5 separate regions of the Homo sapiens genome follow, and all the other regions are reported to be linked to region 2. The links are microRNA targets in miRTarBase. Many come from high-throughput screens and were not tested one by one. Region 2 holds a microRNA gene; each other region holds the end of a gene's coding sequence.

Region 1 (6,039 bases), not on the chromosome of region 2:
TTACTTCATCAAGTTTAACACTTAGAATTTATGCTATTGCCACCAGTATTTTATATACCTAAATAAAAATAATTCAAGTAGTGTAGAGAAGGCTACTGAACGTAGTGAGTGTGGAGTTCAAGGGAAACAAACCCACGGGGGTGAAATCACCAAGGAACAATTAAGTATAATTAGTAAATGTGTCAGAGGCTGAGTCTTAGAAAACTTCAATCTTTAGGGAACAGAGAGATGAAGAGAAACGATGCATTAAATGACCATGACGAGTAGCTACATAGGAAAGAGCAACAGAGTTTGAGAATTTTAGTTACTTTTCTGCTCTTTAATAGAAAAAGATATTTTAAAAGGTGATTTCATAGAAATTGAGTAAGCCTGCCTATAGATATATGGTGTTCTCCAATTAAAATACAAAAACAAATTGGGTTAAAAATAAAACACTAACTATATGGTGTTTATAAGGATATATACCTAGAACAAGCTGACACAACAGACCTAGTGCAGCTCTACTGGCCAAAGCAGAATTTTCAATATTAGAGAAATTGGAATTCAACATCACAGTGAAAAATACAGCAACCAAACATAAAAAGTAAAACCCCTATATTAACAGAAGACCTTGAAACAATATAGCTGGGCGTTTTGTGCCCACTTTTCAGAATTAAACAAAATAATCAGAGGATATTTAAATAATATAATCACGAAGCTTAATATAATTAAGTAGAACTTTGTGTTTTATAGAGAATATATATTATTTCACATCATATATCTATAAAATGTATTAAAAACCTAACGTATATTTGGCCACAAATAATAAATTAATGTTTTAACTTTTTAATGAAGTTTCACAGATCACACACATTATAAGTTCATATGCTAAATTTTTTTCACAGGTTTTTGAAAATTTAGAAACACACACAAACATACAGACACCTAGGTAACTAGTGAATCAAAGAGAAATCAAGATTAAAATAATAATTATCTAGAAGTTAATTTTTAAAAAACTATGGGGCCAGGTGCAGTGGCTCACGCCTGTAATCCCAGCACTTTGGGAGGCCGAGGCGGGCGGATCACGAGGTCAAGAGATCGAGACCATCCTGGCCAACATGGTAAAACCCCGTCTCTACTAAAAAATACAAAAATTAGCCAGGCGTGGTGGCGCATGCCTGTAGTCCCAGCTACTCAGGAGGCTGAGGCAGGAGAATCACTTGAACCTGGGAGGCGGAGGTTGCAGTGAGCCGAGATCACGCCACTGCACTCCAGCCTGGTGACAGAGCGAGACTCCATCTCAAGAAGAAAAAAAAACCATGGGCCCCAGATACAGCAATATTCAAAGGAAATCTTGTAGCCTTAAATGCTTCCAATTTAAAAGAGACTGAAAATATATTAACCAAGCACATGTACTCAACAGAAATACACACAAATAAAAAGAAAATAGTGAAATATATTTTTGAAATAGAAAAAGCAAACAAAAATAGTCAAAAGCATGAAGAAAACCCAGATAAGGTTTTTTTTAAAAAAAAAACAAGTAAAATGAATGGGACTCCTTCAAATCAATTTAGAGGAATAAAGTGGTTTAAAAATAAAACTATGAGTAGAAATACAAATATATATACAGAGACTGAAAACTGAAAGCCAATTCTGTTTGCCAATATCAACGAATTTGAAAATCTAAAGAAAAGGAACCATTAAAATCATTGATGAAGTAGTTTATCAGTTCTAAAATGCACTTTTTACCCCGCATTTTAATGTCTCTGAAAGTGGGTTTCAATATATATCTCCAACAGATTAATCTGCAGGACTTTAAAAATTAGTTTCATATTTAAAGTGATGTATTTTATATGTAGCATCTTAAGATTTCATGTTACTTTAGTCTGTTTTTAATGATTCCTATTCCATTCTTTTTAAAAATTAAAAAATCTAATTACCTCAAATTAAAAAGACATAAAATATACTAATGCTGATATATTTTCATCTTTTGCTCTTTCCAATGCAAAATGTGATTGAATGCCAGAATATTCACTCAAGGGACCTGACTGGGGGGTATAAAAGAGACTTTGGCTACAGGGTTTTTTTCCCCAGCCTTCCTAGATATAGTTTTTGCTTTATATCCCTTATATAATACCCATTTCTATGCCACTTTGAGTCAGTTCTGGTGATTAAAATCCTTTTACTAAAATGTTCAATTTTCAAAATAATTATTAAAAGGTTACATGTAATCGTAATAAACATAAGCTGAGTATCCCTCAAAATGCTTGGGACCAGAAGTGTTTTGGATTTTGGAATATTTGCATTATATTTACCAGGTGAGCATACTTAATCCAGAAGTCTGAAATTATCTTTGAGCATAATGTTGAGCTCAAAAAGTTTTGGAATTTGGAGCATTTCAGATATTGAATTTTCAAATTAAGCATGCTCAACCTGTAATCTGTAAAGTCTCTAGAGTAATGTCGCTTTTGCATTCATGTTCATATACCTTTATTTATGAGAACTGCTACTATTTTTGTTTTCAAAACATTAGGTTGTGATTGATCTAGCTTTTTTTATTCTAAAATTATTTTTCCCTCCCATTATCCTTAGGGTTTTTGTTGTAGTTATTCTTTCTCCAGCTTCTTGGGTTATATGCTTGGTTTCTTTATTTATAATTTCTTTAACATTCTAACAAATGAATGAATTTAGAGCTATAAAATTTCCTCTGTATATTACAGGTCCTCACAGGTTTTGCTATGTAATCTATTCAGTGCCACTTATTTAAAAAATAATGTATTTGATTTTAGTTAATTTACTCATTTATTTTTAGAGACAGGATCTTATTCTGTTTTCCAGGCTGGAGTGCAGTGGCACAATAATAGTGCACTGAGGCCTTGAATTCCTGGGCTCAACTGATCCTCCCACCTCAGCCTCTGGTAGCTGGAGGCCACCATGCCTGGCTCATTTTTAAAACTTTTATTGTAGAGATGGGGGCTTGCTATGTTACCCAGGCTGGTCTCAAACTCCAGGCTTCCAGCAATCCTCCTGCCTCAGCCTCCCAAAGTGCTGAGATTTCAGGCAAGAGTTACTGTGCCTGCCTGCATTTTATTTTTAAGCAAAGAATCATGCAGATGAGTACTGAATTAATATTTGGATTTCAATGGAGAAAACTGCTAGTTTTTTTACTTCTACCCTGGTACAAATTTTATAGTGTATTTGTCTTCTCACACTTTATAATCTTATTATTTTTTCTGTAGGACAATTTTTTATTTATTTATTTTTATTTTGTTCTGAGACAGAGCCTTGCTCTGTCACCCAGGTTGGAGTTCAGTGGTGCAATCTTGGTTCACTGCAACCTCCACAGGTTCAAGCAATCCTTATGCCTCAGACTCCCGAGTAGCTGGAACTACAGGCACACGCCACCATGCCTGGCTAATTTTTGTATTTTTAATAGAGATGGGGTTTCACCATGTTGGCTAGGCTCCTGGCCTCAAGTGATCCACCCACCTTGGCCTCCCAAAGTGCTGAAATTACAGGTGTGAGCCACTGTGCCTGGCAGCAAATATTCTTATTCAACAAGGAAAGAATGTCAATCAAATTTTCCCTACATTCATTTAAATGAATGTCTTTCTCCATTATGAGGTCTTTGTTGTTGAGTAAGGTATGGATCATGGCTAAAAGTTTTTCTAGAAATAATAAAGATGAAGCTTGAGAAGATAATAGTGATGGGTAACATTCACTAAGCATTTATTATGTGATAGGCACAATTATAGAATCCACACAATAAGGCTCTGAGGTATTGATTCTACCCACATTACCATAGGTATGTTACAGATGCATATAAAAGGATCTGGAAGAATAAGTAAATTGGTTAACATTGGAAAGGAACTGAGGCCAGGAATGCTGCTCAAAGGAAAGGCCGGCTTTATCTGTAATGTAAAAATCTTTTATATGCAAAAGCAATTGATACATTATCTCTGAAATGAACAATAAATAAATAAATCAGACACACTGAAAAGGGGCCATCAAGGTAAGTGTTTATAATGGCAAAATTTTTAATATTTGACAAAATTGGGGTTTGATAAAGACAGGTGAATACTATAAAGCCAATAAAATGGTAACAACATATTTACAGACAAAAAATATTAAGGGCTGGTTATAGTATAGCATAATCACACCTTGTTTCCAAAACAATGAGAGATAGTATTAAAGGATTTGCTCCAAAAGTTTGACAGTGATTATCTATGATTGGTAAGATTACAGGTAACCATATCCTTTTTTTCTTTTTATCTACATTATGATGAGGGAAAGCTGTTTTGCTAAAATGGAGAGTATAATTTTATAAAAGGAAAGTAAACAATCTTCTAAAACAAAAGGTACAGGTATTAAAGGATACTTAAAAGTAACAGTTATTGACCATAAACAGGATGAGACATAGATACATATATATAAATTTAAAAAACAAACACTGGGCCAGGCATGGTGGCTCATGCCTGTAATTCCAGCACGTTGGGAGGCCGAGGCAGATGGATCACGAGGTCAAGAGATCGAGACCATCCTGGCCAACGTGGTGAAACCCCATCTCTAATGAAAATACAAAAAATTAGCTGGGCGTGGTGGCGGGCGCCTGTAGTCCCAGCTACTGGGGAGCTGAGGCAGGAAAATCACTTGAACTCGGGAGGTGGAGGTTGCAGTGAACCGAGATTGCACCACTGCACTCCAGCCTGGTGACAGTGAGACTCCATCTCAAAAAAACAAAAACAAAAACAAAAACAAAAAAACACTGACCTGATATCCAAGCTTTATGTGAATAAAAATGTAACTTACCATCAAATAGTCAATAAAAAAAATATGAAAATGGACAAGGTTATTGAATAAATGGTGTTAGGATAATCAGGAAAGAAAAAAAGGATAAATTTAGACTTGCAATAAATAAAATAATTTTTCAATGAATCAGTAATTCTGTATAATACAAAAAAAAAAGACCATTGAAAAAATATAGTAGGATTAACCCAGAAATGAGTTTTCCAATGTTTAAAGTTGAGGCAAAATATAATAAATGATTTTTTTTTCATTTTTAACATTCACAAGTAAGAATTTTCCAAAAGTAATGAAGGAATGAATATAGATAAGGATCTTCAAATATTTATTTTATTTGGGGTGATTTTTTTCCTGTATAAATATTCTTAGACTGACTAACCTGTGAAGCATAAGTAAGGCATTTGTACCTTAGTTCTATTTGTAGAGATTTTCACCACTATGAATTTTCTTAAGTCATATGTTTAGAGTCCTTCCTTCAGCACATAATTTCAATTTATAGTTTCCAATTCGCAGAGTTTCTTACCATTATGACTTTTCTTATGTTGCTGAAACTCTGAATCCCTCCCATAAGCCTTCCCACAGTTCTTACATTCATAAAGTTTCTCACCTGTATGAATTCTCTGATGCTGAGTAAGGCTTGAGCCACTATAAAAAGCCTTCCCACACTCCTTACATTCATAGGGTTTCTCACCAGTGTGTATTCTCTGGTGCCGATTAAGAGCTGAACCACTACTAAAGGACTTTCCACATTCTTTACATTCATAGGGTCTTTCACCAGTATGGATTAGCTGGTGTTGGATAAGTTTTGAGCCACTACCAAAGGCCTTCCCACATTCCTTACATTCATAGGGTTTCTCACCAGTATGAATTCTGTGATGTTGAGTAAGGTCTGAACCACTACTAAAGGTCTTCCCACATTCCTTACATTCATAAGGTTTCTCTCCAGTATGCATTCTTTGATGCTGAATAAGTTTTGAACCACTTCTAAAGGCTTTCTCACACTCCTTACACTCATAGGGTTTCTCACCAGTGTGAATTCTCTGATGCTGAGTGAGATCTGAGCCACTATTAAAAGCCTTCCCACATTCCTTACATACATAAGGTTTCTCACCAGTATGAATTCTTTGATGTCGAGTAAGGGCTGATCCAAAACTAAAGGCCTTACCACATTCATTACATATATATGGTTTCTCACCGGTATGAATTCTCTGATGCCGAGTAAGAGCCGAACCACTGCTAAAGGCCATTCCACATGCT
Region 2 (6,089 bases):
AGGACAGCTCAGGGGCACCTCGGGTCTGTGGCACCAGTGGGTATTGCAACCGGTTCTTCAGGATGCCTGTGAGAGGAAGAAAATGGGGGGCAGGGTTTGTGTGGGAGGGGGAGGGCAGGCAGGAATTGCTGAGTCTAGGGGTGTGGCAGCCCTTGGGATCCTTCCAACACAGGGATGGGAGCAGGAACCCCTTGGGGAGCAGCAGAGGCAACCCTGGTGGTCCCAGAGAGGCAGCAGGACAGGGGTCAGAGTGGAAGGGCAGTCATCTTCCAGTTGTGGTCCCGGGGCAGGGGGAGGGCGGGCAGGTCTCATGGTGCAGGGGATGGGGCAAACTCCCTGAGGTCAGAAGAGGGGCAGCCCTCAGGTCCTGACAATGCAGGCCTGGCTGAAATGCAGGAACCCCCCGGGTTGGACAGGAGCAGTCCCCAGGTCCCTGTGATGCAAGGGTGAGGGCAGAAACCTCTTCTCCGGGTCCCCATAAAAGCAGAGTAGGGGGCAGAAATCTTCCAGATCAGAGCACGGGCTCTGGGATCTGGGTGGGGGGCAGGGGGAAGCAGCTCCTAGGGTCTCTGAAAAACAGATGGGCTGGGGCAGGAGTGGTCGCCTGTGGTCCCCCTGTGGTGCTGGCCAGGGTAGAGGGGGACAGAGAATTCCCAGGTCAGGACAGGAGCAGTCCCTGAGGACCGTGAAGCAGGCTAGAGAAGCAGAAGCGCCCTAGGTCAGAGTAAGAAGAGCTCTCAGTTTGGGATGAGGAAGCTGCAATCCCTTGGCTCAGGGCATGAGCAGCCCCCAGCGTGTCTGCGGTGTGGGCCAGGGCTCAGGGACTGTACCTTTCCTCTGGCGCTGGGCCCGGCCCAGAGAAGTCTCATCCCCACTGGTCAGGGCCGGGTCTGGCTGGTTGTTGTTAGCTGCATCCTTGCTGGTGTCCAGCCCCAGGCGCCTTTCAGAGCCCCAAGTCTGCAGAGCACAGGGGGCTGCCTCGCACTCCCCCAGGGCTGGCCAGTAGGACAGGAGGTCATTGCCATCCACATCTGTGGAGCCAGGTCAGGTTACAGGAGCTTCTGGGTTGATCCCAGTGACTCATGACCCCTGACCCTAATGACCCTTGAAACCCTGGCTGTTCTCATTGAGCAGAGGTGGGAACAGGAGGGTATCTCCTCAGAGATCAATGGGTGGGGGTGACTGGTGAGCTCCCTCCCCTTAACTGGAGGTGGACAGAGACTAAAAGTTGGGGAACCTGATGACTGAGGGGTCAGAAAGACCAGGATGAACCCCAACCGCAGGAAAGATGGGGAGCTGGAGGGATAACAAATGGGGCATCCCTTGGTCACCCAAGGGGTCAGAGGGCGCCTGGCACCTTTGGGGTGGGTGAGGAGCCTCTCACTCTGGGCTGCTCGGCAGAGTGGCCGTTGGAAGCGCCCCCGCGTCCGGCCATTGTCCTCGCTTTCTGAAGATGGAATGGAGAGACTCCTCTCCTCCTCCAAGGACAGGTCACTGTCAGAGTCGGAGTCTGCGCCTGGAGTTGGGAAAGTCAGAAGTACTTTCAGAGGTAAGGGACTTGGAGATAAGGGAATTTGGAGTTGAGGGTCTAGAGGTGGGTACGGCAAGGGGGTTAGGGTTGGGGACAGGAACCGGGGCTTGAAGTGGAGGTAGCAGCAGAAGGGCTGGGACTTATCAGAGGGAAGGACGAATCAGGAGTGGACTGGGAGAACCAGGGCTGGAGAGGTAGGTGCCTCCTGAGGCAGGGACCCTGGGGGAGATCGTCCCACCCCAGTCAGCCACTGCTCCCAGTATGGGGTAGAAGAAAAGGGGATGGGGAGAGATCCTCTGCCTCCCTCCTCCCTGCCCCAGGCCCCAACTCCACCAGCATCTCGATGGAACATGGCCACGTCCAGGTCAGTGGGGCCAGCATGAGCCTGGAGGCTGTGGTCAGTGTGGTCAGCGGCTGAGCCATGTCGAACCAGGACATTGTCCCTGGAAAAGCAGGAGCCCCCCCACCATGAAAGAGGGATGTGATGGGGTGCCTTGGAGGCTGGAGTGTCTTTGAGTGCACAGCCAGCTGCGGGTGGAATGGCATCCCTGGGTGTGTGTGGTGGGAAGCATTTAGGGCAGAGGCAGAAGCAGGGCCCCAGATGGCCAAGATGGGTGGAGCCACCCGCCCTAGGACCTGGTCAGCCAAGCCCTGGTAAGGTGGGGCTGGACTAAGCTGAGTGTTCCCTCACAAGGAGGCTCTTCCTCTCACCTGAGGTAGCTGCGGCCCCGCTGGCTGTCCTGGTCCTGGGTCCGGCCGGAGCGGGCACTGCTCACAGAGGAGACGGTGGAGGCGCCCAGAGTGATGCGGATGAGGCCACTCTCCTCAAAGAGAGCCGTGTTGTTGTAGGCCCCAGGTCCCTGGGGGTGGTAGGGACAGAGTGTGAGCTAACCCTGAAGCAGCCTAAAACTCTGGCTTCTCAGGGCCCCCATCCCGACTCACCAGCCCAGGTGCTGGCCTTGCCTCCTCAGGCGCTGCCTTCCTGCCCAGACAGGCTGGCATCCAGGCAGCCCGAGCATCTGCATTTAGGACACAGAAGAGCAGCAGCACCGCCAGGCCCTGTGGGTCAGCGAGGGTCAAAGCAGAGTCGGCAGGGATCAATCAGGGACCAGTATAAGTCACTGTGGGTCAGCAATGGGGTCAGTCACTGTAGGCTAGTGTGGGTCAGTGAGGAGCCCATGCGGGACTCAGTAAGGGAGTTGGGGAAGGTCAGCAGGGGAGAGGATGGAGCAGCAGGAGTGGCTGGAGTCTGTAAGGTCGGTGTGGATCAGCAAGGGGTCGGGAGCCTTGGTGTTGGTGAAGGTCGATCCAAGATCAGCACTCAGTCTGGGATCAGTGCCTAAGTTAGAGTCAGCTCCAGGCCTGGGGGCAGCAGCTAGGGCCAGTGTCTGGTCTGGGGTAGTACCCAGCCTGGCAAAGTTATCCAGTAAGAGTCAGCTCCAGGCCTAGGGTCAACGTCTGCCTAGGGATGGCCCCAGCCTACTGAAGGCCCACCTGGTTCTGGGGCAAGGGAGGGGCACCAGAGTCACCTGGAGGCCGCAGAGTCCAGCATGGAGGTAGTGGAAGGCTAGGATGCTGTGGTTGACTGCCAGGAGCCCAAAGAGCCAGGAGGCACTGACCAGCAGAAGCAGCAGGAAGGAGCTGCGAAGGGTCCTGCTGTGGGGACATGGGAAGACACAGGAGGACATGCAAGGCTCATGTAGGACTCATGCAGGGAACACGGGAGGACACACAGGGGCCACACACGAAACGTGAAAAAAAGGAACTCACACGGGAACATGGAGGTCTCTGGAGGACACTGGGGGAGATGGGAGGTCCCACAAAGAAACAGGAGAGCAGTCAAAGAGCCATGAGGACACGTGGGGAAAACACAGGGGTATGGGAGCCACAAGGGAGGGCACGGAAGACAGGTGGGAACACACAGGGCAGGGGGCAAAGTGAGCCACCCAGGCCATGGGAGACTCTGGGGGGACCCAGAGGACAAGGAGAGACAGCAGGGCAGAAGCACATGTGGGGCTACAGTATAGCGAGGGCGCCAGAGAGGGACCACAGGTCAGGGCAGGTGTGACTTCATTCCTTCATCTAGAACTTGGAGCCCAACCTGCACCAGGGAAGATCTGGGGGCCCCAGACCCCACCCAGGAGGGACCTGCCATCCTGAGAAGCCCCCTTCCTCCAGCCAGCCAACTCACAGTGCAGAGGTCTTCTTGGCCTCCCTCTGCCCTGTGGAGCAGGATGTGCGGGCAGCGAGGAGAAACATGGTCCCGTTCATCTGGACCCACGGCCAGACATGTGGGGCCGGGCAGGGCAGAGAGAGAGAGAGAGAGAGAGGCAATGAGAGACAGAGAGAGACTAAGATTCACGGAGAGAGGCAGAACCAGTGAGAAATTCACACATATACACACACACCAAAGGAGCTTAGCATCACAGAAAAAGAAATTGGGAACCAGAGAGGGACTGAGAGAGAGAAGCAGAGACAGAGGCAGGGACAGGCAACTGAATCTCTGACCCCGCGCCCCCATCTCCATGCCAGTTGAATGGGGGTGGCTACTGACCAGAGGACAGAAAAAATGAAGGCCGAGCCCAGGAAGCCTGCAGAATGCCACCTGACCGCCCTCAGCTGAGTCCACTGCACCTCCTCCCCCAATGAGGGAGGGAAGTACAGAGGGGGCACCAAGTCCAGGGCACTCACCACTATGACCAGGACAACAGGGCCAGCAAAGCTCCAGATGAGGGGCTCGTGGACTGAGATCCAGCAGAAGTCAGGGTTCCCATAGCCCTCAGGGTCCAGGCCCACAGCAAGGCCTTGGGAAGAGAAAGGGTAGGACTGAGGGTGTGTGTTCCAGAGCTGCTGACCAGCCCATGTATGGGAGAAAGCATGGGTGAGGGCAGAGCAGCAACCCCATGAATAGATGGCTTGGGGTTTGAGGTTGGGGGTCATGAGCAGGAGTGGGGACAGGGTCAGGGGTCAGGCCATGTGATGGTTGGAGGTTGGGGGTCACAGCCCTCACCCAGCAGCACAGCAGGGACGCCCCAGCCCAGGGCATGGTAGAAGCGCATGGCGCCGCGGTCCACGTTGCGTGGCTCAACCTGCATGCGGTAGAGGTGCAGCCCCTGCACGAAGAGCCACGCGAAGGTGCTGAGGAAGAAGTAGTGCAGGAGGATGGCGACTGCAGTGCACACCAGCTGAGGGCAGGGGGGCGTGTCAGGACCTCTCCTGCCTCACCCACCTCTGACCCCTACCCCAGGCATCTGCTTCCCACCTCTCACCCCTAAACCACAATATCTTACCCCAGCATCCTGCTGAAAACCCTGGCCCCAACCTGAGCATCCCTGACCTCTGACCCTGAGTTTTGGCCCCAGGCCTCCTGGGCCAGTAGGGTCATCAGGACACAAGTTCCCTGGCCCTGATCCTGCACCTGATTGTGGGTCCTGTGAATCCCCAGCAGGAAGAGGAGCTCTGCCACCCCCAGGGCGGCTGCCACATTGGCATGGATCCCACGCACATTGGACTTGAGGCTGCGCAGGCTCAGCAGGATGGCTGCAGTCAGCACCAGCGCAGCCACAGACACAGCCACGACCACGTGGGTGAACACAGCCAGCAGCTCCAGGTCGCCCTCCAGCCTCTACAGAGACAGGGATGGTTGATGGGTTGTTGGGCAGAATCCCCGTGTCCCTTTGACCCCCCACTTCCTTGGGACACTGAACACAGCCCCACCTCACGGGGAGAGGCATCCATGAGGACCCCAAAGGTCCCTGTCCGGCTGCAGCGACACCGTGCGTGGGACCCATTCCTGTGCACCAGCTCGCAGTCCCGTGCTGTCCACACACCATGCTGCTCCGCCCTGCAGCCACAGGGCAGTTAGACACAACTGTGACCCAGTGTCAGGCAGGGGTTTGTGAGAGATCATGGGAAGGGCTGAGGGTGCCTGGAGTTGGGGTACAGCATTCCTCATGGTCCGGGTTGCACAACAGCACTAGTGGGGGCCCCAGGGGAAGGCTGGGACTATTAGTTGGCCTCCCAAGGGCTAACGGGACCAAGGGTTTCCAGAATGGGGGTCCTCACAGGCCAGGTGGGTCCCACTGCACACAGATCGCCTTGCTCCGATTCGCTGTCTGTAGCAGGCGAAACTCTAGGCTGATGGGGGACTCCAGGATTCCCCTTAGGAAGTTGCGTCCGTGGAACACAGCCACGCTGACCACCGGGGAGTTCATGACGGGGTTCTGAGGAAGCCTGGGGAGACACCCATCTGGGCTTACGCACTGCTGACCTCCCCATGCTCAGCCTGCTTGCCTCACCCCGTCTTCATGCCACTCGCCAGGGCTGACCCAGGGTCTGGGATGTCCCCAGAGTGGAAGCTGTTTCTAAGAATCCCTCCAGCTTCTGCTGGGCTGCTGAGGGGCTGAGCAGCTCCAGGGGACCTGCAACTGTTTGCCTCTGATTGCCCTCCCTCCTACCCCCATCAGTCAGCCTGTCCTTGTCTGTCTCTGTCAGCCCTTTGGTCTGTCTGTACCTGGCTCATGGATCCCTCCTGTGTGTGGCTCTGTGTCTGTCAGCC
Region 3 (6,089 bases), not on the chromosome of region 2:
GCTATCTTTTTTTAAATAAAGGGAAGCTATAGCAGTTAGGTAAGTAATCTCTTGTAACCCAGCAAATATCTTTAATATATATTATATTTTAAACTGTTTTTATGTAGTTAATGACAGCATAATGATAACACTGTTTTCTAACCAAATGTCATGGGTTCTTGTACCTTAGGTTTTTACAAAATTTTGTATTTCTGTGATTGACATAAATAGATATGCATAGACTGTTAGCCCCCTGAAAACAGGAACTTCGTTTTGTTCATCACTATGTTTCTAACATAGTGCTTGATACACAGCTAATTCTCAATAAATATTTGTGGAAGGAATGAAAAATTTTGAGTGCTGCATCTATTGTATTACTTAATTGATACCACAAGGTGGTACTGTTGTACCATGAAATGAAAGGCTGTAATTAGTACCACATAAATCCTGTGACTAAATGAAACGAATTGACTACCTATTATGTTTATTGCCTGCTTCATTTATTTATAATTTCAACATACGATTAGTCTTTGATTACATGATTGGGTCAGGCAGTGAGCTCATAACCTAAATAAAGAACATTTGGTTCAAATTTTTATAAAAACATTAAGTGAGATGGCATCTTAAAAAACCTAGCATAGTACCAATGTAGTTTCTTTTTCCCACTTTTAATTTACTTTGGGTTAAATGCCTTTGTTAAATTGTCAGTTGCGGTGAAATAATTTGCCCAAAATTTTCTAGTAAATTATCACTGAAGGTTAAATAGTATTGTAAGTCTGTTTTTTGTTGTCAGAAGTGCTTAAAAAATTAATACCAAACCTAGATTTATATTTTTTCCCTCACTTCAAAAAAATTTTTTTATTTTGCTTTCATGTTTCTTTTATGGAGTCCATACAATATTTTATTAATGTTTAGTTCTTTATTATACATTTGTACATATATAATCATAGTATAATCATAGTGTATAAAGTAAGTCGATTTATAATTTCTCTTGGTTTTACCCCTATTTTAAAAACTAAGCATTGAAAAGTTTGTTTTGTAGCTTGTACCTTTTTGTTTCCTTATGATGGAATTGACTTTTGAATATTTTGATTCTATAATTTTCCTTAGACTGAAGTGAAATCAGAAGAAGGCCCAGGTTGGACGATCCTACGTGATGATTTCATGATGGGAGCATCTATGAAAGACTGGGACAAGGAAAGTGATGGGCCAGATGACAGCAGACCAGAATCTGCAAGTGACTCTGATACATAAAGCATCATAGGAAATACAATTGCAGTCGTTTTATTTTTTCTAGAAAAATATGTCATCCTCTGATAGTTGGGGAATTATAAGGATACCATTTGTAAGAAAGCCAAAAGACTTTTGCCAGATTTCATATTTCCCCTTTTCATGTACACTTTATATATACTTCATTAAAATTATATTTTAAACCCTTGTATAATTTTAAGCATTGTTCCTCAGAACATTTGTAAAAGGATATATTTCTGCTTGACCAGCGAGATGTGCATTTTGCCAGGATCATATTGGTCATGTCTATTGGTGTATTATTTCAGTATCACCAATGTTTTCAGAAATACAGTACTAATTCATCATTAAACTCTTTGAAGTTAATATTTTTCTGCCTTCTAACTTATAGACTCAACTATGTATCTGTAGTTTTTGGGAATGGTTGGTGTTTTTTGCTTTGTGTTGGGAAGTTATTGAGAAAACCTATATAATAAAATTTAAAATTATAGTTTTTCAGATTTTGGGTCGTGATTTTAGTTTTAGGTAATCTGGAAGATATGATTTAAGAAACAACAGATTTCAACTTTTTTTTTTTTTTTTTTTTTTTTTTTTTTTTTTTTTTTGAGACGGAGTCTTGCTCTGTGGCCCCGGATGGAATGCAGTGGCGTGATCTCGGCTCACTGCAAGCACCGCCTCCCAGGTTCACGCCATTCTCCCACCTCAACCTCTCAAGTAGCTGGGACTACAGGTGCCTGCCACCACGCCCAGCTAATTTTTTGTTTTTGTATTTTTAGTAGAGACGGGGTTTCACCATGTTAGCCAGGATGGTCTCAATCTCCTGACCTCGTGATCCACCCGCCTCGGCCTCCCAAAGTGCTGGGATTACAGGCGTGAGCCACTGCGCCCGGCCCAGATTTCAACTTTTATTTTATTTCCTTTCATTTATTAAATAATATAAATAATGACAGATTTATTTTAGGTGTTAGCCTATTTTTGCATGAGAGATTTACAGAGGTGGAAATTCTCATGCTTAACTTATGCAATGAGACAATTTCTCAGGAAGCAAGTTTGACATGCTTTAGTCTCTCTCTTCTTTTTTTTCCTCCCAAATATTTGAGTTAGCTTAAATTCTTTTTTATGGACTGCCCAACCAGTGAATTGATGCACTTAGACAACAAGTAATCTGCAGCAGAATATTGCATCCAATTTGAGACTTGATTCCATATTATTGCCTTAAAGGCTATTAAATTGGGTGACTTTTAGTATCCAGCTGTTAAAAAGAGGAAAGACTGTTTAATATCATTCCAAAATTTTTGTGAAATGTGGCCCAAGATCTAAAGTTTTTAAGGGAATTATTTTTAATAAATATGATCTGTCCCTTTTTGAAAAGGATCCATCCCTTTTCATAATAAAAATAATTCCCTCCTACCACCCAGTTGCACATACTTGCATCTGTTATGTATTGAAGGATAATCCCCCCCAAAAAAACTATCCAAGAGCAGAGATGTTTATATTTTGAAACCCATTTGAGTGTTACAGTATTATATGACTAAAGCTGAATCAGTCTGTGGCCTGGTATTTGTTATCATAAAGGAAGATGTACACCTAAGGTATCAAGTGGTTAAAACAGCAAAGTACAAGATGCATTTTTGTATTTATTCTAACTTTTGAACATTAGTGTCTTTCAGTATAAATAAATGTGAACAAATATACCTCAGTAGTAATACAGGAGAACTAAATATCCTGCTATAACTTAATACAGATACATATTTCAATATGACTTAACAAACACACAATTTTGAAAAAAAAAAAAAAAAAGTGCAGCAACTTAAACACATTTTTCTCCCCAGAACTAAGATTACACTTAATTTAATTTAATGTGTTTCTGCGTTATACTAGAGTTTTGCAGGAATTTTTCTGAATAGTACATTCACATGATAGATACGGATAAATACCTTATTTACTAAAATGTTTTGAAACATATTTTATAGTCCCTCATTTGATTTGAAAAAATTTGACAAGATCTTCACATTGAAAGTAAGGACGAGAATATTTGCAGATTTCCTTCGTTCCAAAATTATTTTATTCCAAAGAAAAATTGAGTTGCCACTATCAGGAAAAAAAAAATGTATCACTTCTGTTAGAAGGCTATGAAGTATATATAAATTATATGACAATTTTTATCATATAGATTTGATATCTTCTATGTATTCGTATTTTTGCATCTTGGGTATTAAGCAAAATACCATATGTATAAATATGAAACCAGGAATGTGCATATTTTAGAAACTAATTGTGTATCTTAAGTGAATGTTTTGAGTAGTTCTGTCACCCCTATTCTAAATATTTTACCTACAACATTTAAATTATTCTGATATCAATCAGATAAATAATCCGAGTGTATTTCATCTTTCTACATTGTCTTTGTGGTTTTTGTTTGTTTGTTTTTGAGACGGTCTCACACTGTCACCCAGGCTGGAGTGCAGTGGTGCAATCTCAGCTCACTGCAACCTCCACCTCCCAGGTTCCAGCTATCCTCCCACCTCAGCCTCCCAAGTAGCTAGGACTACAGGTGTGCACCACCATGCCCAGCTAATTTTTTGTCTTTTTGATGTAGATGGGGTTACCCCATGTTGCCCAGGCTGGTTGTGAACTCCTGAGCTCAAGGGATCCCCCCGCCTCTTGCCTCCCAAAGTGCTTGGATTACAGGTGTGAGCCACCATACCACCTGTCTTTGAATTTTTTAACGAGGGGAAAGAAAACTGCAATTCCTGCCTCCCCATTTATTTAAACATAACACCTAGGATTTTATTTTTGGTAACTACTTAGAATAATATAGTAGGTTACTTATCTTCGGTTAGAAAGAACTATGGAAAATAGGAACCAATAATTTGGAAGTATTATTTCCTTATTTCATATATAGAAATAATTATCTTATTTCCTTATTTCATATATAGAATATTCTAGATACTTGGATGGCTGGGGTTGATGTTCTTAGTATTTATCATAGTTTAGCATTGGTTGTTATTTTTAAGCATCAGAATTTGAAAGCCAATGATAATACCTGATTAGGACTGAAAATAGAATTATCTTAGTAGTTTAGCACTTTTTATAATGGAGTTGGAGCACTGAATTTATTTTCAAATTACCTAGAATTCTGCATTGCTCAAACATTATTCAATTGATTGCAAAATATACCTTGGAAACCCTTTGGATAGAACAGTTCAGAGGGTTACCACTAGTACTTAGAGCCTAAAGTCACTCAGTAGGAGGTTCTCAAAGGTCTATTTGAAGGCAATCCAATTTCTTTAAAATAAAATATTTTTTGCCTTTTAAAACAGATGGGTGAAGAAAGGGACGTATAAATTCTGGGAAACCTCTTATGTTTTCCTCCCATTTCCTTCTATGTCTCCATTAATGTGCTAACTTGAAGGAATTTAACTTCAAGGAAAGTTGACTGATGAAGTTTATGTAGAGCTGTGAATATTATAATTTGTCAATACTTTATTGATAATGTTAACTTTGTTTTTATTTGGAAACATTTTTTCCAGTTGACCAAAGCAGAATTCATTCTGTTCTTCCCTCAAATTCATCTATTAGGATCAATGTGATTGACATTTATCTCCACTCTGCATGTCACTGATATGGTATAGACGCTATAAGCCCTGTAGATATTATGGGTATGAAGACTATTTGAGGTGAATTGGCAGTGAGAGCAAATTTTGGAAACAGGAGAGAGAACTACTTCGTGCCTATAAAAAGCTCTCTCACTCCTTCCCCAAGAAAACAGGAGTCTGAATTTTGGCCAGCTGGGTATTTGAATCTTACTGACTGTTGCAGCACTGGTAGTCCTGGTAAATTTTTTCAGTGGGCGAGCTTTTCTGAAATTTGATTAAACATATTAGTCAAGGGAATCTGTGAATAGATTTAGAAGTAGAATGTTTGAGGTGGTTGACAAGACATTTAGAATTGTGATTAATGTTTTAATAAAATGCTAAGTTAGAATGAATAATCATAATTATATAGATGGAAGATATATTCTAACAGTTCTTAAATAATTTTAGATTCTCTAAATTTAGAGTGTTTTCTAGCTTAGAGAGCAATATTAATATTTTTTACCTAGTCTACTGAACATAATTTCAGGGAGTTAGTATTTAGGACTTTTTACCTAGAGATGCGGTAAACCTTTTAAATTTAAATTTGCTTTCTTAAAATACCTGTTCCAACATTGCTCACCTTTCTTCTCCCTCCTTTTTGCCCTCTCCTTCAGTGGGAGGAGCACATATTCAGCTTTCTGTTAAACACTCTTTGGTTTTCAACTGAGTAAGGCAAGCAAGGATATATGTTAGAAGAGTGGGCATAATACTTTATATTAAAATTATAGGGACTAAAAGTCTAAATCATTGCTGTCAATAGGACTTTTTTTGATGATGGAAATAATTTATGTCTGTGCTGTTCAATATGGTAGCCACTCGCAGAGGTGACTACTGAGCATTTCACGTGTGGCTTGTGATACAGAGGAACTAAATTTTTAATTTTACTTAATTACTTTAAATTTTAAAAGTTACACGTGGCTAGTGGGTCTATCCCAACTATGAAGAGAATAAAGCTACAGAGCATCTATCTAGTCTAATGAAACAACAGTGAATTTGGGAATTGTAAATCTGTCTTAAGCTTTTTCCATAAACTTTTATTGATATAATTTAGGCATATACAAATACTGGTGAAATTTTATTGATTGAATTATTGTTGACTTTTTTTTCAGTATTTATATTTTTAAAAAGATATGTTTCTTTATAATTAACTTGTATTGTAGGGTAACCATTGTCCTTAAATGTTAAGCCACTTAGTTAATAACAAATAGCATTTGGTTTTTTAGC
Region 4 (6,089 bases), not on the chromosome of region 2:
CCGAGATGGCCAGCATTTTGTGGAAGACACTGGAAAAGACGACTAAAGTGTACATCCTAGAGTTCAAGAGGCTTTAGGAAAATTTCACTATTTCGCCTAAGGCAGAGCTGCTCTTAAACTTCCTACATGATGCCTGTTTTTTCATATCCTGACCTCCATGATGCCTCCAGGCCACTTGCAGTAATAGTTCCAAAGTTCCCCAAGTCATCTTCCTGTGTTAAACGCTTACCCTGTTGACCCAATTCCTTGCTTACAATTGACTCTAGAGTTTGCTTCTTATCTACTATTTAAGCCCTGTTTTAATTCTGCTTTACTTCAGCCTTCCCTTGGGGTAGTTTTCTTTCTGTCTCCCCTCTTTAGTCATGACTTCCATGGAAGTTACAGTAAAACAATGCAGGAAAATAAGCAGACAATGATGCTGAAGGACATGCAGGCCACCCCTACTTAACTCTCAGCTGACCCAGCTCCCCTTCACTTCCAGCCTCAACCAGGGAGGGGAGGGGGCCCAGAACCACAAGAACTCAGAGAACTATAGTTGAACTGAAGCTCTTTATCCTCCGAGTCAACCTTTCTTGCATCTGCTGCACCCAGGGCTAATGAATGAACTTCAAAGAACGTCTTCAAACATCAAGTTCATCAGTGACCAGAGGTGTACTTTTGCAACCTCTCCAGGAGCTTTGTTTTGGATGTCTTCCTACCATGAGTTTAGTTACCATAGCAACAGCCAGAGAAGCTCTGCCTGGAAGAGAGATTTCTTGTATAATGAGCCTGGAAGACCTTAAGGTGAATAGACAACTTTTGCTGTTTTAGGCCTAAAAGACCTATATTTTTTCCCTCCCTATTAGTTCCTGGTATATATTTATAGCATTTATATCATATTAACCATAAAATGAATCTGACTTATTATTTCCTTTTAAAAATCCAGATAGTCTGATCATATAGAGATCACTGGGTCCCTGGGTCCTGAGGCCATACTGGAATATATTATCCAAAGGCTCTCTGTCTTGCTGCCTAGATTTGTTTGCATGAAGTCATTGCTCTTCTCAAGTCCTTCTCAGGACCTGTCAAATCAAAACTCCTGAGCTGGAAGGTGGGAGCCATCCAACAATCAATTCTTCCCCTACAAGCCACCAGAATTTTTTCCTCCTCTAGCTCACTGGGTATGGTGTTTGCACTATTTTGTCCTCTTCCTTTGGAGAATCACCTCTCCCCTGCTAAATAGTATTGCTCAGCCCCTGCAGTAAGAATGGTATGACTTGGTTCCTAAGCCTGACCAGGCTCAGACACTTTCCTGGGACTTCTGCCAGTACTATATGGGAAGGTATTCTTTTGTCTCAGAGGCTGCTAAGTTGGTAAATCCTATATTACCTATAGGATGGTGGAGAAATCCTATATTAGTCTGCCAAGGCTGCCATAACAGAATACCATAGACTTGGGTGGCTGTATTAGTCTGTTTTCATGCTGCTAATAAAGACATACCTGAGACTGGGCAATTTATAAAGGAAAGAGGTTTAATTGACTCACAGTTCAGCACGGCTGGGGAGGCCTCAGGAAACTTACAATCGTGGTGGAAGTGGAAGCAAACATGTCCTTCTCCACATGGTGGCCGGAAGGAGAAGTGCCAAGAAAAGCGGGGAAAAGCCCCTTATGAAGCTATCAGATCTCATGAGCACTCACTCATTATCAATCATGAGAACAGCATGAGGGTAACCGCCCCCATGATTCAATTACCTCTCACTGGGTCCCTCCACGACATGTGGGGATTATGGGAACTACAATTCAAGATGAGATTTGGGTGAGGACACAGCCAAACCATATCAGTGGCTTAAACAACAGACATTTACTTCTCACAGTTCTGGAGGCTGGATGTCTAAGATCAAGGTGTCAGCAGGCTTCTTTCCTCAGCTTACAGATGGGTCGCCTTCTGGCTCTGCCCTCACATGGCTTTTCCTCTGTGCTTGTACTCCTGGTGTCTCTTCTCCCTCTTAGAAGAACACCAGTCTTATTGGATTAGGGCCTCACACTTATGACTTCATTTAACCTTCATTACTTCCTTAAAGGTCTTGTCTGCAAATACAGTCATATTGGGAGATAGGGCTTCATATGAGTTTTGAGGAAACACAATTCAGACTGTAATAAATTCTATGGGAGAACTGGAAGGAAAGGTGGAGACCCAGTCACATTGTTCACATTGTATCTCTGGATACAATAAGTCAGCCCTACCCCTCTAAATATTTTATTTTCTTCAGTAATATTTCTTTTCTCTCCACTGTACTCTCCTAAATATTTAAACACATCTACATAATGGCCATTGTTTGGTCAAAATAAATGAAGAAGTGGTGTTTGGAGGTATTAGAAACTACAAACAATACTTTATTATAAATTAAGAAGAAATATAATTTATATAGTTCTTTGTTTATTGCACTTTAACCAAAGACGTAGGCACTATCCATGTCTCAGTTATTGTATACATATGAAGATTACCTTAAGCAAACATTTTTGTCTTAGTACCTTCCTTAAGCACAATTTTTAAGATTCAATTGTTCTAATACTTTATACCCTATAATCAAGCAAAGATGAGAAGACCTCAGAATTCAACAAGAATCTGGGTGCTTACCTCTTCTGATATAAATATCAGAAGCTGATTCTTAAAGCTTCTACTTTTACATAGAAATAAAAATGTCCTCTCCATTTCTAATCACAGATGGAAAGAACCAGAGGTGATACCCCAGCCAATCATCTACAGTTAAAGCATTAATACTGTGTTCAGAGGATACAATTCATAATATTTATGCACTCAATTGTACAGAGGAAAAGAAAGAGACACAAAAACTAGTGAAATCATACCTCCCCATGCATGGCTTTTAAACCAGTTCAACTGTGCTATAGGATACAATGGGGTGGTGGGGGCGGGGGGCATATGTACAATAATGTTTGCACCTTATCTAAATAAAATGCCACCAAGTTGATGTATTATTTAGCCTTTATTGCATAGAAGGCCTTCCATTTGAATATGCTACATACAGAACTCTAAACTCTGAGCTTTTTATTCACAGAAAATGTGCTCTCATACATCTTTGTGTCCCCTGCCCTTAATACTATGCCCGACCCAGAGTCAGGGATCAAAAGATATTTTTGGTATGAATAGGCAAAAAGACACACATAGGACCTTGAATGACAGTGGCAATGTATTACAATTTATTAAAGATGTCTGATGAGTCCAGAGTACTCCAAATATTGAACCCAAATTCTCAAAAGGCATGTGATAGAATGGGGTTACCCTTGATAAACTATAAAGTTAGAAAGATTATTTTAGAGACACCATCAGAGTAGGTGTCAGAAAATCTGAGTTCCTGTCTAGCACATTCCACAAATAAAGTTTATAACATTGCACCAGTTGCTTAATCTCTGTGTCTTGAATCCTCATCAATAAAATTCAATTAAGTCTATTCAAACACTTCTGTGAATGCTAACAGTTCACTGGCAATTAATTTGAAAACAAAAATCTGTAAGGCTTCTGCAATCTAGTTGAAATCTACCTTTCCCAGTGGATTTTCTAAAATTCATCAGCACCTACCAGCCTGCCCCATGTCTTGTATCCTGGCTTCTGCCACACTTCCTTCTGCTGAGATGTCCTCTCTGCTCTTCTCACCTCCCTAATTCCTGACCATTCTCTAAGACCCAGACCCACATACATCTCCTTAAAGCCTCCAGGCCACACGCACTGGGGGATTATGTGTAGGTGTGTGAACTCCTCGAGGATGGAACACATTCAATTCTTTTCAACGCTGCCCCTAGCAGCCTTCCCACCATACTTTGCAGAGAGCTCTGCACAGAGCAAAGCAAACACTGTGGCTCTCGCCTCCCCTTGCTCCCTCAGGACCTCGCAGCCTTCAGTTCACTCAACCCAAGATCTCAAGATTTCAAAGAAACGAAGAGATTGAAGGCTTCTGTCTCGCAAGTTAGTCACTGATCAGGCAGAAGTGTTTGGCTCCTGCTTCCTCACATTTGTTTTGCACACACACAATGGTCTTGATATGTTTAGAGGGTATTTGCAATGGGATGTGGCTGGCCCAACTGTCAGCTAACCTTCATGTTTCTTTCATAGCCCCCAGGAAGAAAATTGAAGAGTTCAAAGAATTGAAAAGTTAAGCCAATTCATTTAAAATAATCTTTGACTTTCTCATTATCAATATATGTGTATTTTCTGCAAGGTTACAAAAACAACTGGAACATATGTTAAAATAATCTTCAGTGTCATCTGCAGCAACTAATTCTAGAGAACTATCTTATTCAATTTCATTTCTTACTTATATGGAACTAAACCTTAATCTGCTTTTCAGGTATGAAATATATTCATGATTCTGTCTCAAAATATGAAATCAAAAGTTAGCATTATAACTCCCAGCTAACTGTCATATTAATTCATCTGGATGAACCTTGTGGTACTGAACTTTGACAATGCTCAGGGTGTCAAAGCAAACACCTGCCCCACCCCACGCCTACCCCAAAAACAAACGAGAGGCTTTTATAGGTTGCAAGTCCTGGTCTGGTTTATTTATAAAGCAATAAATATTAGAAGCACAAACAAATTGCACGTGTGTAAACAAACTGTACAATGATTGATGAAAGATGAGGGAAGGTGGTTTGGAAGACTCCAAGAAGCATAATACCGTCATCCTGACTGGAAGGTAGATGGAGAGAGAAGGCATCTTAGAAGCATTTGCGGTGGACAATGGATGGGCCTGCCTCATCGTACTCTTGCTTGCTAATCCACATTTGCTGGAAGGTGGACAGAGAGGCCAGGATGGAGCCCCCAATCCAGACAGAGTATTTACGCTCAGGGGGAGCAATAATCTGCAGAAAGAAAACAAAAACTTCCAGTGAACTCTGAAGTTCCAAGCAAGGGAGCAAATAACACATTGGGAGGATTCACAGAAAAAAACCATTAGATATTAATTCGCTATAATGTGGGATATGTCATACCACGAAATAATGTGGCCAATCAAGTTATATGAACTCACCTCTATTTCATCATTTATATTATTAAAGATATATTCTATTATTAAAATGGAATTTCTCCACTTACCTAGAGTGTAATTTGGCAACAAGCTAAATGTGTAGTGGAGCCTAGCCCAAAAGTTGGGAGCTTTAAAAATGTATTCAAAGATTTTGTTGCGTGTGTGTGTGTCTTTTTTTTGTCAAAGATTTATTTTTATTCACTGCTTAAAAGCATTTTGGAAGTTACCTATCTTGGGAAAAGTGCTAAGAAAATCAGAAAAAGTGGTAGAAAAGCTAACAGGTAAAGTTTGTAGGAGACAAGAAACTGAGTATGAGGGAAAAGGAATTTGGAACGTAGTTCTGCTTAGAATACCAAGACTTGCCTCGGATCTCCCACTCACAAAAGTTCTTTACCTTAATCTTCATGGTGCTAGGAGCCAGAGCAGTGATTTCCTTCTGCATACGATCAGCAATACCAGGGTACATAGTGGTGCCTCCAGATAAGACATTGTTGGCATACAGGTCCTTGCGGATATCAATGTCACACTTCATGATGCTATTGTAAGTTGTTTCATGGATGCCAGCAGATTCCATACCTGGGAACGAGTCACACACACACACACACACACACACACACACACACACACACACACATCACAGTGCATTCAGGTCAAGGTAGAGGGAAGAGAACAGAACTTCTTTGTGTGGGGGAGCTGTCACCATTTGTCTCTGAAACATATGTTCCCCTATAAGACACACTGCAGGGTGGAATGGGTGCCTCACAGTTAATCCACAATACAATGCCAAGAAAGGAGCAACTGTGCTTAGCACCTGTTTCAAGTAAACACCTCCTGAAACTCTCAGATGTATGAAGATGTATTGGAAAAGGAAAAGATACACGTTTAAACTAAAATGAATGTAATTTTTGTTTATGGACTTAAATCAGATCCTGACAAAGTTCCTTATGGAAAGCATTGCTTAGGAAGGATATTTGTTGACATATAAGTGCCCAGTTATTAATATGAGTAGGAATGTTATTGCATTTAATGATGAGGAACTTGGAAAGTCCAGCTACTTGGTAGTGAAAC
Region 5 (5,737 bases), not on the chromosome of region 2:
AGTCCCCTCCTCTACTAAGCCAGCTCCAGTGGGAGGCAGGACGCTTGGGAACAGGAGCCCAGGGAGGCCGTGACCTGCCGAGGTCACACAGCGTGTCTGCAGGAAAATCCATCTTGTGGTTCCTAGCCCTGAGCTCATTCTGCCCCACTGGCCCTCAGTCCTCCCTCGTATCTAACCTTGGTCCCTCCTGCTGCTACAAAGACCTGTTTCCCTTCACCAGAAACTGCTGCCCTGCGAGACCAAGCCAGTGAGCCTCCAGGAGATCGTGGCAGCCCAGCAGAATGGCTGTGTGAAGAGTGTAGCCGAGGCCTCCGAGCTCACCCTGGGCCCCACCTGCCCCCACCACGTCCCCGTTCAAGTGGAGCAGGATGAGGAGCTGCCCGCTGCGAGTCTGAACCACTGCACCATCCAGATCAGTGAGCTGGAGACCAATGTCTGAGCCTGCGGAGCTGCAGGGGCAGGCGAGGCCTCCAGGGGCAGGGTCCTGAGGCAGGAACTCGACTCTCCAACCCTCCTGAGCAGCCGGCAGGGGCCAGGATCACACATTCTTCTCACCCTTGAGAGGCTGGAATTAACCCCGCTTGACGGAAAATGTATCTCAGAGAAGGGAAAGGCTGCATGGGGGAGCCCCATCTAGGGAGTGATGGGCCCGGCATTGCCTGAGGCCCCGCTGTGACAGTTTCCCCGGTGTGAGCCCGGTGAGGGCGGCAGGCAGGGGTTATCCGGCCCCACTTTCTGGATGACAGACTTGAGGCTCTGAGAGCTGAAAACACTTGTCCAAGGTCTCACGTTAAGGTCAAGACACTAACTCAAATCTTTCAAGCCCCGCCTCTCCTCTTGGAGGACAGGGCAGCCTGCAGCTGTGTCCAGGCCCAGGCCCCACCCCATAACAGGTGGCCTCAGCCACACAGTTCTCCCCAAGGGGAGCAGCCCAGGGCCAAGCCCCGCTGCCTTCCCCAGGCCACAGTGCGTCCAGTCTCCTGTCCTGCCACGTGTCTTTTGCAAAGCTCCTTGGATGTGGAGACAGATGTCTTTACTAGAGCTGAAAGGCCCCCTTGACACATCCAGGCCAACCTCCCATGGAATAGGTAGGCAAGCCAGGACTCCGGGAAGGAGGTGCAGCCAGGATGCTCTGGTGGAGCTGCCGATGGGGCCCTGGTGTCAGAACTCCCCAAAGGCCTGTGCGTCCAAGTGGAGTCAGGTTTTCTATTCCTTTCTGTGTTTGCAAATTCAGTGTTAACTAAATAAAGGTATTTTGTTTTTCACTTCTTGTGGGCTTCAACACCTTATGCTAGCCAGCAAATATGATATTAGCTACTGGGCTAATTAATACAGGCGGCCAGAGTGCAGACGGGCCTGTCTGGGCAGCCAGGATATGGGCGGGCCTATGCAGGTGGCCAGAATCTAACAGGCTTGTCCATTTGGCTGGAGTGTAGACAGGTCTGTCTAGGCTGCCAGTGTGTGGACAGGCCTGTATGGGCAGCCAGAGTGCAGAGAAGCCTGTCCTGGTGGCTGCAGTAAGGACAGTCCTATCTGAGCTGTCACATGCAGAAGACAGAGTATAAGCTAGCCTACCCAGGAGCCTGTCTCAATAACCACAGGGCAGCTGGGCATCGTCCAGTGTGGACAGACCTCTCTGCCATGGTCTAGGCTCTGCTCTGCAGGCAGGGCCTTGAGATCAGTCCCCAAAGAAGAAACAGATTTCCTTCCCAGTCTGGCTCCCCGTGGTGAATGCTTTGCTTTAGACAGGGGCGTGCCCAGGGACATTTCCAGATGGTCTCCCTCATTCTCACACCCCAGGCTGCCTCCAGGAGGCCTGCAGGGCACACAGAAGGGCCCTGGCAACACAGCCTGTTCCAGATATGCCTTGGGGAGAAGATACAGCTCTGGGGTCTGGAGGGGCTTGCACCATGATGCCCTTGAAGACACTAAGGCCCAGGGAGGGGACAGGCCTCCCCCAGGTCACTCAGCGTCAAGAGGGCACCTGCTCCCACTGCCCCATTCCTGAACTCCTTCCACCCTCCTCCCAGGGGTGGAGTGTGAGGAGTCTGGGAAGAGCACGACCCCAGGACACCTCCTCCCACTGCAGGGCTGGGGGCTGCAGGCCTCCACGAGAGCATCCTTCCTTCCCTGAGGCCTCCTCACCTGGGAGAGGTCAGATGTCATGCAATCGGTCATCCCACCTTCATGCAGACAAGCTTAGCAGCCCCTTCTAGGTGTCACATCTCTAAGACCCCTTGAGCAATCGAGTCTGTCCCAGCACAAGGCAGGAGTCTGCTCTTTAGTGGACTTGGCAGGAGCATCCTTACACACCTCCAGCAGCAGGGAGGTCACCACTTCCCGAGCATCTCAACCCACAGTGGGGCAGCTCTGCCCATCAGAGGCTCTTCTTAGCTCAGAGCTGGGTACCACCTCCCGGTGGCAGCTCTCCCACTGGGGTGGGAAGCACACTGGGTGCATCTGTTAGCTCTTTCCTGGAAAGGTCTGCGGAGACCTGGGCCCCCAAGTCGGCTCTGCTCCAGCTCCCAGGCCTGCCTCCAGTCCCCTGCTCTCCTCTAGAACCCACTAGTAACACCCTGTCAGTGCAAAGGTGACCCATGACCCTCCAGGTGAGCCCTTAACAGGCCCAAAGCCCATGAGGTCCTTTGCTTGGATGCTCCACCTCTGGGAATGCACAGCAAGCTCACAGGCCGCGTGTGCTGGTTCAGGCCTCACCTACTATTCCCGAGTGGGCCATCTGCACACACCTCAGGCCCCCTCGCCTGAGGCTATGCCCTGTTCTCCCAGGATGCCTGCCTGTGCAGCTACTCTGCGGGCCCCGAGAACTGGACTTTCCACTGATGTCTGCTGTTCTGGCCAGGGCGCTGAGGGGCTTGTATCCTGCCCCCTCCACCCGGCACCAGGCCAGCACCTGGCAGGAAGCAAGCACAGACATAGCCACAGGCTGCAGGGATAGGGATAATGCTTTTATATTAGTTTTTCTATAACAAGAAAAATCAGCTTTGAGATTTTTATCATTTTTTTCCTTAGAAAAGAATAAAAAATAAAGGCACCCGGAACTTCCCCCACAGGCCTGAAGAACAAAGGTGTCTCCTAGGTGCAGCTGGGTCCTTCCTCCCTGGCTCAGCCCAGCCCCATCACCTCTGCTTCACTCCTGCCCCAAGGCCCCAGCAGCACCCAGGGGGCTCTCCCATCCTGCCTCCACTGGGCTTGCCCATTGGAAAAGTGCCTGTGTCCTGCCAGGGCGTGGCAGGGAGGGACTCTTAGCAGAGTGACTGCCCAGCACCTGGAGGAGCAGGGTGGGCCAGGCCAGGCCAGCAGTCCTGAAGGCTCCTGTCCCCATAGGATGGGAAAGGAATAAAAGCCAGCTTTTGTGAGTTCCAGAGGGTGGCAGGCACCTGGCCACAGAGCATGGATACCCTTGTGTCTTCTCCAGGGAACGGACGGACAGATGGACAGGGCAGACGGCGAGCTGCTATGGCTGATTCTGGCTGGGGCAAGAGCTGTCTGTGGCATAGGCTTTGGAGGGCTGTTCGCACATGACTTGTGCATGTGTGTGTGTGTGGTGTGTATGCATACGCATACACATGTCAGCAGGGGGAGGGAATGGGTGCCTGTGTGTGCCAGGGCAGGGGCAGACCCTTCCCTGCATGATTCAGAGGGCGTGGCAGCGGTAGTGGGGGTGTGACAGAGACTGTGGTGGTTTGGAGGGTAGTTGTGTGTGGCTGAGCTGGGTGTTTGAGGGTGTGATGTGTGTGCATGTGTCTGGCCGTGGGACACGCCGTGGGAAGGGGTGGGGATATGAGACTGTGTCAGCCCGTGTCATGTGGGATGCCTCATGTGTGCAGCTGGGTGTGTCTGTGTGAGCACGGCAGAGTGGGGGGCTCACAGCACACAGGCGTGTGCTGCAGAAAAGAGTCCGGCGGTCCATCGTCCTGTGGAACATGTAAGAGAGTCAGGGGCCAGCTCAGGGCAGACCCACCAGCCCAAGCAGCCTGAGGGGACCTGCTGTGGGGAGCCCTGCTGGAGGGGGCTCTGGAAAGGCCAGGCTACTATGAGTAGGGAGGGAGCGTTGGCCCTGGGAGCCCAGAGCCAGCGGGGTGCCAGAAGGCCTTTGGGTCCCACCAGCCACTCCCCAGGGCTTCTCCCAGAGCCCCACTCAACTGACCTGAGATGGGGCAGATTCTCACCCACCCCAGGACTCCACAGCCCCTCATGAGGGCTGTGGTGTCCCCACTGGATGGCCAGTCACCCTGTCACCCACCCCAACTCTGTGTGAGGACAACACCTCAGAGAACCAGCTCTACCTTCATACTCCCGGGCCCTGGGAGCTGGGGAAGGTGACCCCCAAGCTCAGCCTCTTGCCAGCCCCTCCACACTTGCGGATACCCAACTCTGTGCACACTCTTCTCTCACCATCAACTTGCGCCCTTCTCCCAGCTCCCTCTGTCACCCACCCAAGTGGCCCTCAACAGCCCCCTCTGGTTCCTCTTCGTCCCAGGCCCTACTTCAGTCAACACTCAACAGTGGCCCGGCAGCCCCTCCCACGGCTACGTCCTGGCCCTGTGACCCCCAGCCTGGCTCACTCCTCACCAGCTCTCCTCTCTCCTCCGACCACACAGCCGCTCCTGGCTCCTCTCCAATGTCTTTCTCTGAGTCCCTGCCCACCAGCCCTCCTATCTGCACCTCCTTCCCTACCCAACCTGACCCCAGGACCCATGCCTGCAGCCAGCCTCCGGCCAACACACTCCCTTGTTCCTTGCCCTCCTGTCCTGAACTCTTGGCTGAAAAACTCAGCTGTGGGTGGATCCACCTGTCCATTTTCTCCATACCTTTGGTCTGCGGAGAACCTCCCTGCTGCACAGAGAAAACGGAAGACTGGAGGGATCCGGCTGACATGGCTTCACATCTGGCCACCAAGCCACCAATCTGCCTGTGACAGCAGCCACCCTGCCCTTTGTTCCTCCTGCTAAAGCCAGCAACTTCTACCATTCCCACAGGGGCCCTCAAAGCCAGCTCTTTCCTACATCGGTGACTCCCCCTCCAGGCCAGCCTCTTCCCACCAGCACCCAAGCCAGCCCCCTCCTTTAAGAGGGTGCGTGTGGAAGATGCATGTGTGTGTCGGGGCATCTTGCCAGAGCCCCTCACACAGGGCTCCCCTCGAGAGGCCTTTGCTTCCTGTGAGGCTCAGAAAATGAGCGTTTCCTGAACTTCACACTCCATTCCCACCTCTGCCCTCTCTCATCTCTCACAGCCAAACTTCTCAAAAGGCTGGTCTGCAGTGCCTGGACCCACTTCCTTTCCAGCTGCTCTTCTCATCCCAGCTTCCCCTGCTGCTACAAAGTCACAGACAGCCTCCAGGTGGAAAAATCCAGTGGGCGCTCCGCAGTGGTCAGCTCCCTCAGTGCTCAGTTCCCTCAGCCCCTCAGCAGCACTGACACAGCCAAGTCCCCACTTCTAGACAGGCCTGTGCATGCACGCATCATGTGTACATGTGTGCATGCAGGTGTGCATGTAAGGGCCCGTATACGTGGGTACGCATGGGTGTTTTGTGTGCATGTACTCACATGCATGTACACACGTGTGTGCACGTATGTACATAGTCTAGGCATGCAAATGTGTCATGGGGTACAAGCATGTATGTGTGTCTGTGTGCATGTGTGTGGTGTGTGTGTTCTGCCTGTGCATGGTTTGTGGATGTGTGTACATGTTGAGACGTGTGTGCACATGAATGTAT

The links. The annotated mature microRNA hsa-miR-4793-5p reads ACAUCCUGCUCCACAGGGCAGAGG and lies in region 2 at 3,746-3,769, opposite strand. An mRNA with a match to its seed (bases 2 to 7 or 8) in the 3' UTR can be bound and repressed. Matches are read on the target gene's strand: a 7mer-m8 pairs with bases 2 to 8, a 7mer-A1 pairs with bases 2 to 7 and ends in A, and an 8mer does both.
Region 1: miRTarBase lists ZNF345 as a target of hsa-miR-4793-5p. Seed matches in the 3' UTR shown: 7mer-m8 at 4,516-4,522.
Region 3: miRTarBase lists RRP15 as a target of hsa-miR-4793-5p. Seed matches in the 3' UTR shown: 7mer-m8 at 2,030-2,036.
Region 4: miRTarBase lists ACTC1 as a target of hsa-miR-4793-5p. Seed matches in the 3' UTR shown: 8mer at 4,676-4,683.
Region 5: miRTarBase lists SLC1A7 as a target of hsa-miR-4793-5p. Seed matches in the 3' UTR shown: 7mer-m8 at 1,124-1,130.

Annotation. Positions count from the first base shown.
Region 1 is chr19:36,877,529-36,883,567 of GRCh38, reverse strand. ZNF345 (zinc finger protein 345) reads right to left here. Exons shown (of 3, transcript NM_001242472.2): 3 at 3,993-6,039. The coding sequence ends at 5,271. Among named protein-coding and RNA genes, the nearest start is that of ZNF345, 30 kb to the right of the region's middle. RefSeq lists an enhancer at 4,937-6,039.
Region 2 is chr3:48,640,494-48,646,582 of GRCh38, forward strand. It overlaps MIR4793 (microRNA 4793), which reads right to left and starts at 3,787; the gene lies at 3,701-3,787. It overlaps CELSR3 (cadherin EGF LAG seven-pass G-type receptor 3), which reads right to left. Exons shown (of 35, transcript NM_001407.3): 22 at 5,597-5,764; 23 at 5,249-5,375; 24 at 4,950-5,156; 25 at 4,542-4,716; 26 at 4,223-4,335; 27 at 3,723-3,802; 28 at 3,061-3,184; 29 at 2,474-2,590; 30 at 2,243-2,391; 31 at 1,865-1,974; 32 at 1,358-1,516; 33 at 831-1,031; 34 at 1-66.
Region 3 is chr1:218,329,859-218,335,947 of GRCh38, forward strand. It overlaps RRP15 (ribosomal RNA processing 15 homolog), which reads left to right. Exons shown (of 5, transcript NM_016052.4): 5 at 1,090-6,089. The coding sequence ends at 1,233. Among named protein-coding and RNA genes, the nearest start is that of TGFB2, 12 kb to the right of the region's middle.
Region 4 is chr15:34,785,699-34,791,787 of GRCh38, forward strand. ACTC1 (actin alpha cardiac muscle 1) reads right to left here. Exons shown (of 7, transcript NM_005159.5): 6 at 5,416-5,597; 7 at 4,532-4,857. The coding sequence ends at 4,714. The region is part of intron 2 of GJD2-DT (GJD2 divergent transcript); the gene reads left to right. Among named protein-coding and RNA genes, the nearest start is that of ACTC1, 6.8 kb to the right of the region's middle.
Region 5 is chr1:53,082,711-53,088,447 of GRCh38, reverse strand. It overlaps SLC1A7 (solute carrier family 1 member 7), which reads left to right. Exons shown (of 11, transcript NM_006671.6): 11 at 221-1,265. The coding sequence ends at 439. PODN (podocan) reads right to left here. Exons shown (of 11, transcript NM_153703.5): 11 at 2,954-3,935. Among named protein-coding and RNA genes, the nearest start is that of PODN, 23 kb to the right of the region's middle.